2 linked regions of the Homo sapiens genome follow. The protein of the gene in region 2 interacts with the protein of the main gene of each other region in a pairwise test. Each region holds a gene or a part of one and is shown on either strand. Other genes may lie near its edges.

The links. The genes of interacting proteins can lie anywhere in the genome.
Region 1: the proteins of SEPHS1 (region 2) and ZBTB25 interact in binary tests that used the Homo sapiens proteins (3 or more experiments, as listed by UniProt).

Annotation. Positions count from the first base shown.
Region 1 is NC_000014.9:64,486,839-64,493,863, reverse strand, and holds part of ZBTB25 (zinc finger and BTB domain-containing protein 25), read left to right. Parts: intron 1-3,323; coding exon of another isoform or gene 3,324-3,330; coding exon 3,331-3,503; intron 3,504-5,806; coding exon 5,807-6,941; 3' UTR 6,942-7,025. UniProt on the Homo sapiens protein: May be involved in transcriptional regulation.
Region 2 is NC_000010.11:13,338,269-13,345,293, reverse strand, and holds part of SEPHS1 (selenide, water dikinase 1), read left to right. Parts: intron 1-265; 5' UTR 266-343; coding exon 344-536; intron 537-4,385; exon of another isoform or gene 4,386-4,603; intron 4,604-6,485; coding exon 6,486-6,589; intron 6,590-7,025. UniProt on the Homo sapiens protein: Synthesizes selenophosphate from selenide and ATP.

The DNA.
Region 1 (7,025 bases), on a different chromosome or scaffold from region 2:
TCTTCTTTTTTTTTTTTTTGAGGTGGGGTCTCAGAACCTCTTATCAAGACGGTTTCTGTACTTCTTCTCTAATGTTCTGGGACTCTGCCTTTATATCAACACCTAGCACATGGCAGTTACTCTGAAAATGTAATCTGAAGGAATGGATGAATTCTTCCAATTACCCAAGCTGGAATTCTGAGACTCACCTTTGATTTGATCTCTGTGGTGACAAGTCATGTCAGTTTTGTGTCTGATGTATCTCTTGTATTCCTTCCTTCATTCCCACTGCGATTACTTTGATACCATAGTAGGCTCCTAGCCAGTCTTTCTCCATGCCTTTTCCCTTGCTAATATTTTTTATATGTTGCTGTTAGAGCAGTCTTTACTCACGCCTAATGATGGTGATGATGATAATGCCTAGTATTTATTAGGCACTAACTGTGGGCCCACTGTTTCTAAGTGCATTATATCATTAAATTCAAATAACCTATAAGTTAGATACTGTCATTGTCCATATTTTATAAGTGAAATGGAGGCCCAGAGAGTTAAGTGTCTTGCCAAGACCACGCAGCTAGTAAATGGCAGAGCTAAAATTTTAAGCTGTCTGATTTTAGTTCAAGCTTTAACTACCACGCTCTGTTCTCCCTCCCACAGAGTAAGTTAACTGATCATGCTGTTCTTACTCAAACATCTTACATAGTTCACTTCAAACACGACACTACTTTTTAGTCTTATATTCTGTATGCTTTTTGAACTGACCACATTTCATTATTTCTGTTACTTTTTTTTTCTATGCCAAGCTGAATCCTTCTGTTATCTAACTATTCATATTCTTCCCAGTAATTTTATTCATTTTATTTTTTCTGCCTGGCCTTGTTTCCCATCAAGTTGCCTGTGTTTATCTCCCTCTGATAGCATGTTCTCTAACTGCTCTGTGCTACTGAATGCATTTATTTCATATTATAATTATGGTTTGATGTTTTATCTTTCCTGTGAGCCTGTAATCTTGAGTGTAGCATCTTGTCATTTTTTTCTGTCTCCACGCCTTGTACAATGCAGGCTTTTACACATTTTTTCTTTATTAAATTGCTCTTCAAAAATATCTGTTGAATAAGTGAAGAATTTAACTGTTACCAACAGACCATTAACCATAAGATTCCTGTATGGGTGGCTTATTAGTGTGCTATGTCTCATTTCCCTATGGTTCAGTAGTTCAATATAATGGGAAGAACTGGTGAAAATGTTTATGATCCGAGGGTTTGGTTTTGTTTTTTTTTTTTGAGACAACTTATCAGGCTAGTTTAAGATGCTTCAATATGAACCATTTCATTGATTCTAAGACACGTTTTTCACATGCTGAAATTGTCAATACAGATTTTTAGTTTGTTAGGCCGGGCACGGTGGCTCATGCCTTTAGGAGGCTGAGGTGGGCAGATCACCTGAGGTCAGGAGTTTGAGACCAGCCTGGCCAACATGGTGAACTCCCGTCTCTACTAAAAATACAAAAATTAGCTGGGCATGGTGGCGGGCACCTGTAATGCCAGCTACTTGGGAGGCTGAGGCAGGAGAATCGCTTAAACCCAGGAGGCGGAGGTTGCAGTAAGCCGAGATGGAGCCGTTGCACTCCAGCCTGGTCAACAAGAGCAAAACTCCGTCTCAAATAATAATAATAATAATAATAATATAACTTGGGGATTATTCCACATCAGTACATTAAATATGTAGTTTTAATAGAGTCTGCCTTTTTTTTTTTTTTTTTTTTTTGAGATAGGGTCTTGCTCTGTCACCCAGGGTGAAGTGCAGTGGCATGATCATGGCTTACTGTAGCCTCAATCTTCCTGGCTAAAGCTATCCTCCTGTCACATCCACCCAAGTAGCTGGGACTAAAGCATGCACCACCGTGCCTGGCTAATTTTTGACACATAGGAAGCACTATAAAATGTTAGCTATATTTATTATATTACTGATCACTTAGCTGTCTGCTGCCCAAGCCACTGCCAATCTTTAGACGGCTAACCCTGCATTACATCACTGACCTCCTTAGACCTTGGTCTGGCTGGCTGGTGTGGAAACCTCATTCTCTTTTTCAGTGTCTGCTCTTTCAAAGGATGTTCTCCTGGCCACCCAATGATGCCCTTTATACTACAGCTACCTTCTGCCTAAAGTACCAGGGCTCTCTCCACAGTAGGGTAGAGAAGATGATGTACAGTCTGCCACCTGCCTGAAACCAGGGCACTTCTGAATGTTTTTGCTGCTTATACTCGGCTTCTTGGCCAGAATTCTGCATGTTCTTCCTCATATAGGCTTCCCCGCAGTTGTTCCACCTTGCCTTTTACTTCCTTTGGGAACCTACATTATAATATGCGTCTGAATCCAGTTGAGATCAGTTCTTTCTTTTGTGTGTGTGTGTGTGTTTTTGAGACAGAGTCTCACTGTTGCCCAGGCTGGAGTGCAGTGGTGTGATCACAGCTCACTGCAGCCTTGACCTCCCAGTCTTAAGTGATCCTCCTGCCTCAGCCCCTCAAGTAGTTGGGAGTACAGGTGCATGCCACCATACCTAGCTAATTGTTTTATTTTTTGTGGAGATGACGTTTCACTATATTGCTCAGGTTGGTCTCCAATACCTGGGCTCAAGCAACCCTCCTGCCTCATCCTCCCAAGGTGCTGGGATTACAGGCATGAGCCACTGCGCCAGCTTAAGTTCTTTCTCAGGAGGCTCTTGGGCCACAAGTAAATTGGGGATGTGGCTTGACATCTATTTTAAGAGTTCCTGAGCTACTGTGATGATAAGTCCCCCAAACATTTGATGAGAGTTGGGAAGCCAGTATCCCCTGAGCACCAGAGGATCCCTGAGGAGGAGTGACATCTCTAGCTCAGCCAGGATACCGTGTTATGTTATTAACATTTATAGCTAACATCGAATAGCAGTTTCCATTACAACATGATTTTCACATAAGTTATTTAACTCTGAGGCAGGAATCAGTATCTCATTTTCATTTTTCTAATGAGGAAACAAGATTAGAAACATTGTGTTCACATAGATGGAAAAGGACAGGTCTGTCTTCATGTGTCACTCATACCAAGCTATCTTCTTACCAGATGAAAAAGGGTCATATTTTATGGTTCAGCAGAGTTTATATCAGTTGTCATAATGGAGGAATTTAGTGTTAGCCGTGTTTGCAGTGAAAGTAATAGGATTGAAAACTTGAATAATTTCATTTAAATTTAGATCTCCTTGTTACTCTGTAGGTTTGTGTGAACTGTAGACAATTTTGTATTAATAAAAAATAATGCGTATATACATACACACCTATCTACATTTATCTTGTCCTTTTTTTCAGAACCACAATGGACACTGCCAGCCATAGCCTTGTTCTTCTCCAGCAGCTGAACATGCAGCGAGAATTTGGTTTTCTGTGTGATTGCACAGTTGCAATTGGAGATGTTTACTTCAAAGCCCACAGAGCAGTGCTTGCTGCTTTTTCTAACTATTTCAAGATGATATTTATTCACCAAACAAGGTAAGGATGTGTTTTTGTAAATAAGAATTTTTAATATTGTGATTTATATAAGCTTTATTATAGTATCATTTTGGAAATTCTTTGTTACGGAGTCACACTAAGAAGTAAAATTATAATTTTTTTTTTTTTTTTTTTTTTTTTTTTTTTTTTTTGGCGACAGAGTCTTGCTCTGTCACCCAGGCTGGAGTGCAATGGTTCAGTGTCGGCTCACTGCAACCTCTGCCTCCCAGGTACAAGCGATTCTCCTGCCTCAGCCTCCCGAGTACCTGGGATTACAGGCGCCTGCCACCACGCCCGGTTAATTTTTGTATTTTTAGTAGAGGCAGGGTTTCACCATGTTGGCCAGGCTGATCTCAAACTCCTGACCTCAGGTGATCCGCCTGCCTCAGCCTCCCAAAGTGCTGGGATTACAGGCATGAGCCACCATGCCTGGCCAAATTATAATAATTTTTTATACATTAGTAATTAAACTCAGTGTGTAGGATCCATAATGGAAAATAAGAATGAAAATAAGAATAGCTAAAATTGGCTGGGCGCCATGGCTCACGCCTGTAATCCCAGCACTTTGGGAGGCCAAGGTGGGCGGATCACAAGGTCAGGAGTTCGAGACCAGCCTGGCCAATATGGTGAAACCCCGTCTCTACTAAAAATACAAAAATTAGCCAGGCATGGTGGTGGGCGCCTGTAGTCCCAGCTACTCGGGAGGCTGAGGGAGGAGAATTGCGTGTACCTATGAGGTGAAGGTTGCAGTGAGCCGAGATCGCGCCACTGCATTCCAGCCTGGGTGACAGAGCGAGACTCTGTCTCAAAAAAAAAAAAAGAAAAAGGAAAGAATAGCTAAAATTTATTGAAGGCTTATCCCATACCCAAGCACTAAGTATTTGCCCTATAATGTAAATTCTACTGCTGTCCCTATTTCAGGAAAAAGAAAACTGAGACTGAGTTAAGTAACATGCCCATGCAGGATTATACAGCTAATAAGTTAGATGCAGATTTGTCTGAAGCTATGTCTATGCTTTTAGTCACTAAGCTGTTAATTTTTGTTTCATATAACACTTTTGTTTTTTTTATTTTTTATTTTTATTTTTTTTGAGACGGAGTCTAGCTCTGTCACCCAGGCTGGAGTGCAGTGGTGCCCAGGCTGAAGTGCAGTGGCATGATCTCAGCTCACTGCAACCTCCGCCTCCCAGGTTCAAGCAATTCTCTTGCTTCAGTCTCCCTAGTAGCTAGGACCACAGGTGTGCGCCACCACACCCGGCTAATTTTTTGTAATTTTAGTAGAGACAGGGTTTCACCATGTTGGTTAGGCTCCTCTTGAACTCCTGACCTCAGATGATCCACCTGCCTCGGCCTCCCAAAGTGCTGGAATTACAGGCGTGAGCCACCGCACCCTGCTGATTTCAATAGGTTCTTTCAGAAGTTTTAAGATATCTTTATTGTGGCTATAAACATATAAAATTTGCCATTTTAACCATTTTTAATTATACAATGCAGTGGTGATAATCACATTCGCAATGTTGTACAACCATTACCACTGTCTATTTCCAAAACTTTTTTATCACCCCAAACAGAAACTTTGTACCCATTAAGCAATAACTCCCCATCTCACCCTCTCAACCCCCAGAAACCGCTAATTTACTTTCTATCTCTATGAATTTGCCTATTCTAGATATTTTATATAATACTTGTCCTTTTGTGTCTGGCTTATTTTACTTAGCATGATATTTTCTGGGTTCTCCATGTTGTAGCATGTATCAGAACTTCCTTCTTTTTATGGTTGAATAATATTCCATTGTGTGTGTAAGCCATCTTGTGTTTATCCACTCATCTTTTGGTGAACACTCAGCTTCTTTCTACCTTTTGGCTACTGTAAGTAATGTTGCAGTGAACATTGGCATACAGGTATCTGTTTGAGTCCCTGTTTTTAGTTCTTTTGATCGTTTACTTGATAGACTGTTAAATTCCTTAAGAGCAGGTACCTATTTTATTCATCAGTTTTCTACCGCTGGCATCTAGTATAGTGCATATCACTTAGGAGTCACTTGATTAATGTTGAACTATTCAGAATGTATGTCTGTGTTTCCTAACTTTAGGCAGTAGATTGAATACATGAAGACTTTTTGCTAGGCCATAAAGTTGGTATAAAATGAAAGTTTAAGCCTTTGTTGCCATGTTTTATTAAGGCAGATTGCTAGGTTCGAACTTCTTAGGAAGAAATTGCTTTAGTCTCAGACTATACTGTTAACTGAAAGGCCAGCTAGGTTGTGTTTCATTTCTTGTGGGTCTGTTTTTGTTTTTAACAGTGAATGCATAAAAATACAACCAACTGACATCCAACCTGACATATTCAGCTATTTGTTGCACATTATGTACACGGGGAAAGGGCCAAAACAGATTGTGGATCATAGTCGTTTGGAGGAAGGGATTCGATTTCTTCACGCCGACTACCTTTCTCACATTGCAACTGAAATGAATCAAGTGTTCTCACCAGAGACTGTGCAGTCCTCAAATTTATATGGCATTCAGATCTCAACAACCCAAAAAACAGTTGTCAAACAAGGACTGGAGGTCAAAGAAGCTCCTTCCAGTAACAGTGGAAACAGAGCTGCTGTCCAGGGTGACCACCCCCAGTTGCAGTTGTCTCTTGCTATTGGTCTGGATGATGGCACTGCAGACCAGCAGAGGGCCTGTCCTGCCACCCAGGCCCTGGAGGAGCACCAGAAGCCCCCAGTTTCCATCAAGCAGGAGAGATGTGACCCAGAATCTGTGATCTCCCAGAGCCACCCCTCACCCTCATCAGAGGTGACAGGCCCCACTTTTACTGAAAACAGTGTCAAAATACACTTATGCCATTACTGTGGGGAACGTTTTGATTCCCGTAGTAACCTAAGGCAACATCTCCATACACATGTGTCTGGATCCCTGCCATTCGGTGTCCCTGCTTCCATTCTGGAAAGTAATGACCTTGGTGAAGTGCATCCCCTTAATGAAAACAGCGAGGCCCTTGAATGCCGCAGGCTCAGCTCCTTCATTGTTAAGGAGAATGAACAGCAGCCAGACCACACCAACCGGGGTACCACAGAGCCTTTGCAGATCAGTCAAGTATCTTTGATCTCCAAAGACACAGAGCCAGTAGAATTAAACTGTAATTTTTCTTTTTCAAGGAAAAGAAAAATGAGCTGTACCATCTGTGGTCATAAATTCCCTCGAAAGAGCCAATTGTTGGAACACATGTATACACACAAAGGTAAATCTTACAGATATAACCGATGCCAAAGGTTTGGTAATGCATTGGCCCAGAGATTTCAGCCATACTGTGACAGCTGGTCTGATGTCTCCCTGAAAAGTTCTCGCTTGTCACAAGAACACTTAGACTTGCCTTGTGCCTTAGAGTCAGAGCTCACACAAGAAAATGTGGATACTATCCTAGTTGAGTAGCAGCTTCTCTTTCAGAATTTTTATACCAATTCTGAAAAAGAAAATTTGCGTGGCATTTTTAATTCATAAATTATTTTCCTCCTC
Region 2 (7,025 bases):
GTGTCATGTGAACCTGCAGGCTGGCCCTCTTGCCACAGTTAAAACCACAGTCCAGATGTCAGATTTTACATAGATGTCTGTGCTGACGCAGTCCCGTTATGAAAAGATCTATTTTGTCATATGCACTGCTGTGGTGAATATAAGTGGTCTTGATGATTTCAGCCCTTGTCACATTGACTTTTCGCTGTCATGTATTCACTTGATTCGCTGGCAGGTCCCAGTGGGAATTCTTTTCATGGCATCTTTGTGTTTTGGTGACACCCAGGTGGATCCATAAAGAACCCAGCCAACCCGCAGAGGGAGGGGAGGGGCTGAGCTGTGAGGAGAGCGGGGCCCAAGAACCATGTCTACGCGGGAGTCCTTTAACCCGGAAAGTTACGAATTGGACAAAAGCTTCCGGCTAACCAGATTCACTGAACTGAAGGGCACAGGCTGCAAAGTGCCCCAAGATGTCCTGCAAAAATTGCTGGAATCTTTACAGGAGAACCACTTCCAAGAAGATGAGCAGTTTCTGGGAGCCGTTATGCCAAGGCTTGGTAGGTAACCCAGTGTTTCTTTGATGGTCTGCGATCCAATCAGTGAGTCAAAAACTGGATTTCTCGCCTCCCATGTTGCCTATTTATTTTTTATTATTACTTTTTTTGCTTTTATAGATTTGAGGAATACACATGCAGTTTTGTTACATGAATATATTACATAATGGTGAAGACTAGGCTTTTAGTGTAGCCATCACCCAAATAGTGTACATCGTACCCCCTTTATTTTTTTTTAATTTTTGTGGGAAGGATTAGAAGAGCAATCAATGTTATGATTGCTATGTTATGTTCTTGTAACTTATGTAGAGAAAGTACTTGAAACGCATCAAGAGGGGTACTCTTGACAGTTTTTAAATCATGGAGTATGCAATTGAGATTGTTATTACAGTAAAAACTTTTTAATTTTTATTTTCAATTTAATTGAATTGAATTTTCTGTTAGCTGAAGATTAAGCAGAAATACTTTATTCCCTTTTCCTAAAAGGACTCCTAAAATGCTCACATTCCCTTCATTGCCCTAGGAAAGGCGGTTCCAGCCTTAGGGTTCTTGTGCTGTACTTGGATGGCAGTGACTGTGTCAGGAGGGCATTGGGGTTCTCTGCAGGGTGCATCGGGCGAAAAGCGTGTTACGGTGAGGAGGTGGGACTGCTCCAGACCCAGGACTGGATGGATCTGTTCTTGACCCCAGGATGTCATCTGGAACCAGGGCAATGTCTTTTTCTTTACTACATTCCTGATGTCATGAGTGATTTCACTTTTCCCAAACACAGAGCTTAGAAACAAATTCTGGGCTCCTGGGATATTGTTTATTCATGTTTCTTGTGCAGTTTATTAAGTACACAGTACAAGACTGTGATCACTTTTCTTGTGTTCGACGCATAGTTTCGGAGGTTTGGATGTTCGATAATTACTGTGTGACTTGATCAGTTTTCTTCCTTTTTTTTTGAAATGGATTCTCACTCTGTCACCCAGGCTGGAGTGCAGTGGCGTGATCTTGGCTCACTGCAACCTCTGCCTCCTGGGTTCATGCGATTCTTCTGCCTCAGCCTCTTGAGTAGCTGGGATTATAGGCCCCTGCCACATGCCCGGCTAATTTTTGTATTTTTAGTAGAGATGGGAGTTTTACCATGTTGGCCAGGCTGTTCTCGAACTCCTGACCTCAGGTGATCTGCCTGCCTCAGCCTCCCAAAGTGCTGGGATTACAGGTGTAAGCCACCACACCCAGCCAAGGTTTTCATTTCATTTGTTTTTGCCCATTATTTGGTAAGGTTCATTGGTTATGAGCCTGGGGTCTCCTTTACTCCCAGATAGAGAAAGCAGATAAAAGCAGACTTGCTTTTGTTGGAAAGGAAGAAATGTTACACCCCAGTCGCTGGTGACCTGCAGGACTTTGAGGAGCTCAGTTTGAAAACAGTTCCTGCCGTCCAGCTGATGGCCAAGCTGTGGAGAAATACCATGTGAGCGAGCTGGGTTTGATGTTGGCTTATTTGTCGAGAAATGAGAATATACTGAGGAAGCTGTTAGATAACTGTCAAGAAAAAAAGCTATTAATACTTAATGCTCAAAAACCAATGAAATTAAAACATTACGGCATAAAGTAAGAATTACTATTTATAACTTCCTCTGGCACAGTTACTTACTAGTCACTCATATTATGTCATGAATGTCACCCAGCCCTCCTGAGCCTCAGCTTCCTAATCTATAAAATAATAATTACTGTTTGGGGTTGGGTGCGGTGGCTCACACCTGTAATCCCAGCACTTTGGGAGGTCAAGATGGGCAGATCACTCAAGGTCAGGAGTTCAAGACCAGCCTGGGCAAAATGGTGAAACCCATCTCTACTAAAAATACAAAAGTTACCTGGGCTTGCTGGTGTACACCTGTAGTTTCAGCTACTCGGGAGGCTGAGGTGGGAGGATCCCTTGAGCCCGGGAGGCAGAGGCTACAGTGAGCTGAGGTCACACCACTGTACTGCGGCCTGGGAGACAGAGTGAGACCCTGCCTCAAAAAAAAAAAAAAGATTACTGTTTTGCATTGTTGTACCAAAAATGTGTGTAGGTGTGCCATGTATGTCTGTACTTACATATATAATACATGTATGTGTATACCCTCTGTACACAAGTATATATGGTATATATGTATGGGTGTTTTTGACCTTTTTTTTGTTGTTGTTGAGATGAAGTCTCACTGTGTCGCCCAGGCTGGAGTGCAGTGGCACAATCTCAGCTCACTGCAACCTCCGCTTCCCAGGTTCAAGCAGTGATCTCCTGCCTCTGCCTCCCAAGTAGCTGGGACTACAGGCGCATGCCACCACACCCAGCTAAATTTTTTTGTGTTTTTAGTAGAGACGGGGTTTCAAGGTGTTGGCCAGGCTGGTCTCAAGCTCCTGAGCTCAGGTTATCCACCCACCTCAGCCTCCCAAAGTGCTGGGATTACAGGCGTGAGCCACCGCACCCGGCTGTATGTTTATTTTTTTAACTTTTTTTTTTTTTGAGACGGAGTCTCGCTCTGTCGCCCAGGCTGGAGTGCAGTGGCGCGATCTCCGCTCATTGCAAGCTCCGCCTCCCAGGTTCACGCCATCCTCCTGCCTCAGCCTCCCGAGTAGCTGGGACTACAGGCGCCCGCCACCATGCCTGGCTAATTTTTTGTATTTTTAGTAGAGACGGGGTTTCACAGTGGTCTCGATCTCCTGACCTCGTGATCCGCCTGCCTCGGCCTCCCAAAGTGCTGGGATTACAGGCGTGAGACACCGCGCCCCGCCATCTTTTTTTTTTTTTTTTCCTTGAGATAGAGTCTCACTCCATCACCCAGGCTTGAGTACAGTGGTGCAATCTCAGCTCACTGCAACCTCTGCCTCCCGGGTTCAAGGCCCTCCCAGGCCTGATTCTCATGCCTCAGCCTCCCTCCAAGTAGCTGGAATGACAGACGTGCACCACCACACCCAGCTAATTTTTTTGTATTTTTAATAGAGTTAGGGTTTCACTATGTTGGTCAGGCTGGTCTGGAACTCCTGACTCTAAGTGATCTGCCCACCTCGGCCTCCCAAAGTGCTGGGATTAAAGGCATGAGCCCCCGCGCCCGGCCTGTTTATGTTTTTAACTTTTTTCTAATTGAATGTCATGTTTTCTGGCTTCAAAAATGGTGTTAATTGAAGGGTTAACCAAAACAGCTTTTAAATGTACACACGATTACTAAATGTATCCTAATTAAAGAAATGGTAAAAGAAGTGTGCCTTAGAACCAGAGACATTTGTTGCCTGGTGCCTAGGAGCTATCAAGTAATGATTGCTGCTGCTGGCGGGGGCGGTGCAGGGGTTGGGGGTGGGTAGTGGTGTGATAACTTAGGTTGTCTTTCTGATGGAGGATGTCAGTATTGCTGAAAACCTTCCAGCAAGTTTGCCCATTGCCTCCTGGTCATTAAACCTAAACTGTTCTGTCTAGTATTTAAGGCTTCCCCGACCCTGTGGCATTTTCCTCTGTTCCCAGTTACCATCCCTCTGGACCGTCCCTCTGTCTTTCCATTTCAAACGCTAGTTTTTCAAGGCCTGTGGGCATCTCAGGCTCACCCCTTCTCTCTTCCTTCCTTGAAATGTGATTGGTGATTTCTAAACCAATCACTGTAGACCAGTGCTGTCCAAAAATACAATGCAAGCCACATGCGTAATTTTCAAATTCAAAGTAATATTTTTAAAAACCCGATAACAAAAATCAGGTGGAATTAATTATAATCTATTTTATTTAACACAATATATAAAAATGTCTTTTCAGTATGTATATATACGACATTATTAATGAGATGTTGGTTTTTGGTACTAGGTGTTTAAAATCAGTTGTCTGTTTTGTACTTACAGCACCTGTTTGTCAGATGCGCAGCCACCCCCTGTGTCTAGTGTCAACCACATTGGACAGCACCAGACCCTATTCTAGTAGACTGTGGTGGCACAGGTGTGAAAGAGAAACCGTGGATAACGGAGCTGCTTTTCAGCCCTAGGGGCGTGCTCAAGAATCCCCCGTTACTCTGATCAAAGGACTTGCTAAGTTTAGAAATAAAGCGCTTTACAAATCAAATGTATGTAATTCAAATTTAAGATTATTCAAATTAAGAACATTTAAAGCTAACATTCAGCAACAATTTTAGTTTCTCTTTCAGTAGTCCTCCAGTTTAAATGGAAGCCTGAAAGAAAACTGCCTCTTACTGTTTTCCAAAGTGAATAATAATATACTCAGAATAACCAGTTGTCAGAATTATCCATTTAGGGAGAATCCATTGAGTTAAAGAGTGGTATTTCTATTTAGGTGCTAAAGAGTGTGATGAAACAAATTTCTGAGAGGTTGTGCCCATGGGCTGTTTACGTGAATTATCTCACACGTTCTCCTCTGACAGATGAAAACTGATCCAGTGCCTGACATTGTTGAAACTTGCCATTCTGAACTTCACTTCTCCATTCCCTAAGCGAGGTCTTCCAGCAAGAGTTTCTGCTTTGTTATCTAGTGTGATAAAAATCAGCCTGTCTTCACAGACTATGGCTTTTTATTGAGTGAGATTTCATTTTTGCAGCAGGAAAGATCTGGTGCCTCCATGACCCGCCTCTGTGAGGTCTGCTGCTGTCATGAGACCGAGTGAGGCAGTGCTTCACGGCCCTTTCACTTACGCAGAATATTAAAGGTCGTTTTAGTGCGATTCAGATATGATTTAAACTTGTTTGAAATTCTGAATTTATAGGGTAGATTCAGGCACATAATTTGCTTCCTTTTGTCCTAATTCTGGCTTTTTCCCTGCTTTTGGCTATTGGGCTGCAAAGTAGAAGTACAGCATCCCCCTCTGTATCTGCAGAATCCTCGTGGGGGATTCAACCAACCACAGACTGAAAATATGCAGGGAAAGAAGTGGATGGTTGCATCTCAACATGCACAGACTTTTTTTTGTCTTGTCATTATTCCCTAAACAGTACAGCATAACAAATATTTACATCGCATTCACATCGTATTGGGTGTCATAGGTGATCTAGAGATGATTTAAGGTATGTGAGAAGATGTGTGTAGGTTATATGCAAATATTGGGACATTTCAAATCAGGGATTTGAGCATCTGTGGATGTTGGTGTCTGTGGGAGTCCTGGAACCAGTCCCCCACAGATACCAAGGAACAGCTGTCCTCATAAGAGGACAGAAGAGTGTCCTTCTGAGGGGTGTAGGGCTGCTCACTGTGTTCAGCTTTCTTGGTGGGAATGCTAGTCTGAGTTTGTAAAATGCCTGCATTACAAGTAATTTTTAAAGGAGTACAGCCTTATCTCCAAGACAAGGAGTAGCGTATCTTGACTACTACTGGTGGTCTTGGGACTCCTCTGACATAGATGCCAGAGTGTTTATATCCAGGCTTGATTGGAAATTTCCATTGAATTGTAGATTGGGATTTGTCCTTTCATTTCATCTGTGTGTGTGTCATTTTCACTTTTGACTAAAATGTATAAGTAATAATAGCATTTTTCAATGTAAAAATATTTTACATGGTTTCTGATGGGACAATACGATAATGTCTGTAAAGATGTACGCACAATAACTATACTTAAGATAACCCAAGTTCCATTTATAGGATTCTCATCTTCAAAGAAATTGTATACGGTACCAGTCACACGCTACAGTAATACAGTAAAATAATAAAAGTCATACAGTGAAAAAGATTTTTATTCAAGGCATCATTAAGGATTAAAACTATGCCATATTGGAGTTGAGTCTTGATGAGTAACATTTTCATTGGTATTTTCCATCCTAAGCTGGATATGTTTCACGTTTATTTCAGTTACGCTTCTTGATAGGAAACACATGGCTTCATTGGCAGCCTGCAGTTTCCATAAGTATCTTATGAGCTCTTCCTGTTCAGAGCACTGGTGATATAAAATGAAATGGCTTTCCCGTTTTATTTTTGGATGCTAATGACTTCCATCTCCACAGGCATTGGAATGGATACTTGTGTCATTCCTTTGAGGCACGGTGGGCTTTCCTTGGTTCAAACCACAGATTACATTTACCCGATCGTAGACGACCCTTACATGATGGTAAGCGTGAGCCGATGTGTTTTTGTGACTGGAAGGGCTTATTTGTTTGGTTTGGGTTGTGGCTGGGGTTTTGTATGTATCTGTGGGGTTTTGGTTTTATTTCTGTTATATCCCGACTATACTGCCCCACCCTGCCCAGACTCCTGCAGTTGCTGAAGTCAGGCCTGTCCCCTGCCCACACTTGGCACTGGGCATAAAGCAATTAGGGAGGAAGCAGGGAAGGCCCTCTGCTGCTGTTGCAACTGAGTACATGCTGTGAGTAAGAACACCTCTTGTTTAGTAGCATGTCAATGGCCTGTTTTTGTCATTTTCTTCTTTCTTGCACCTTCTCTTCTTTGACATTGGTAACCTCCATCACCCCTGTGTTTTAGGCTGGAGATGTTACTGTCCTCTGTAATAGGACTGATCCTAAATGTTTCCTTCAAGAGATTAAGGA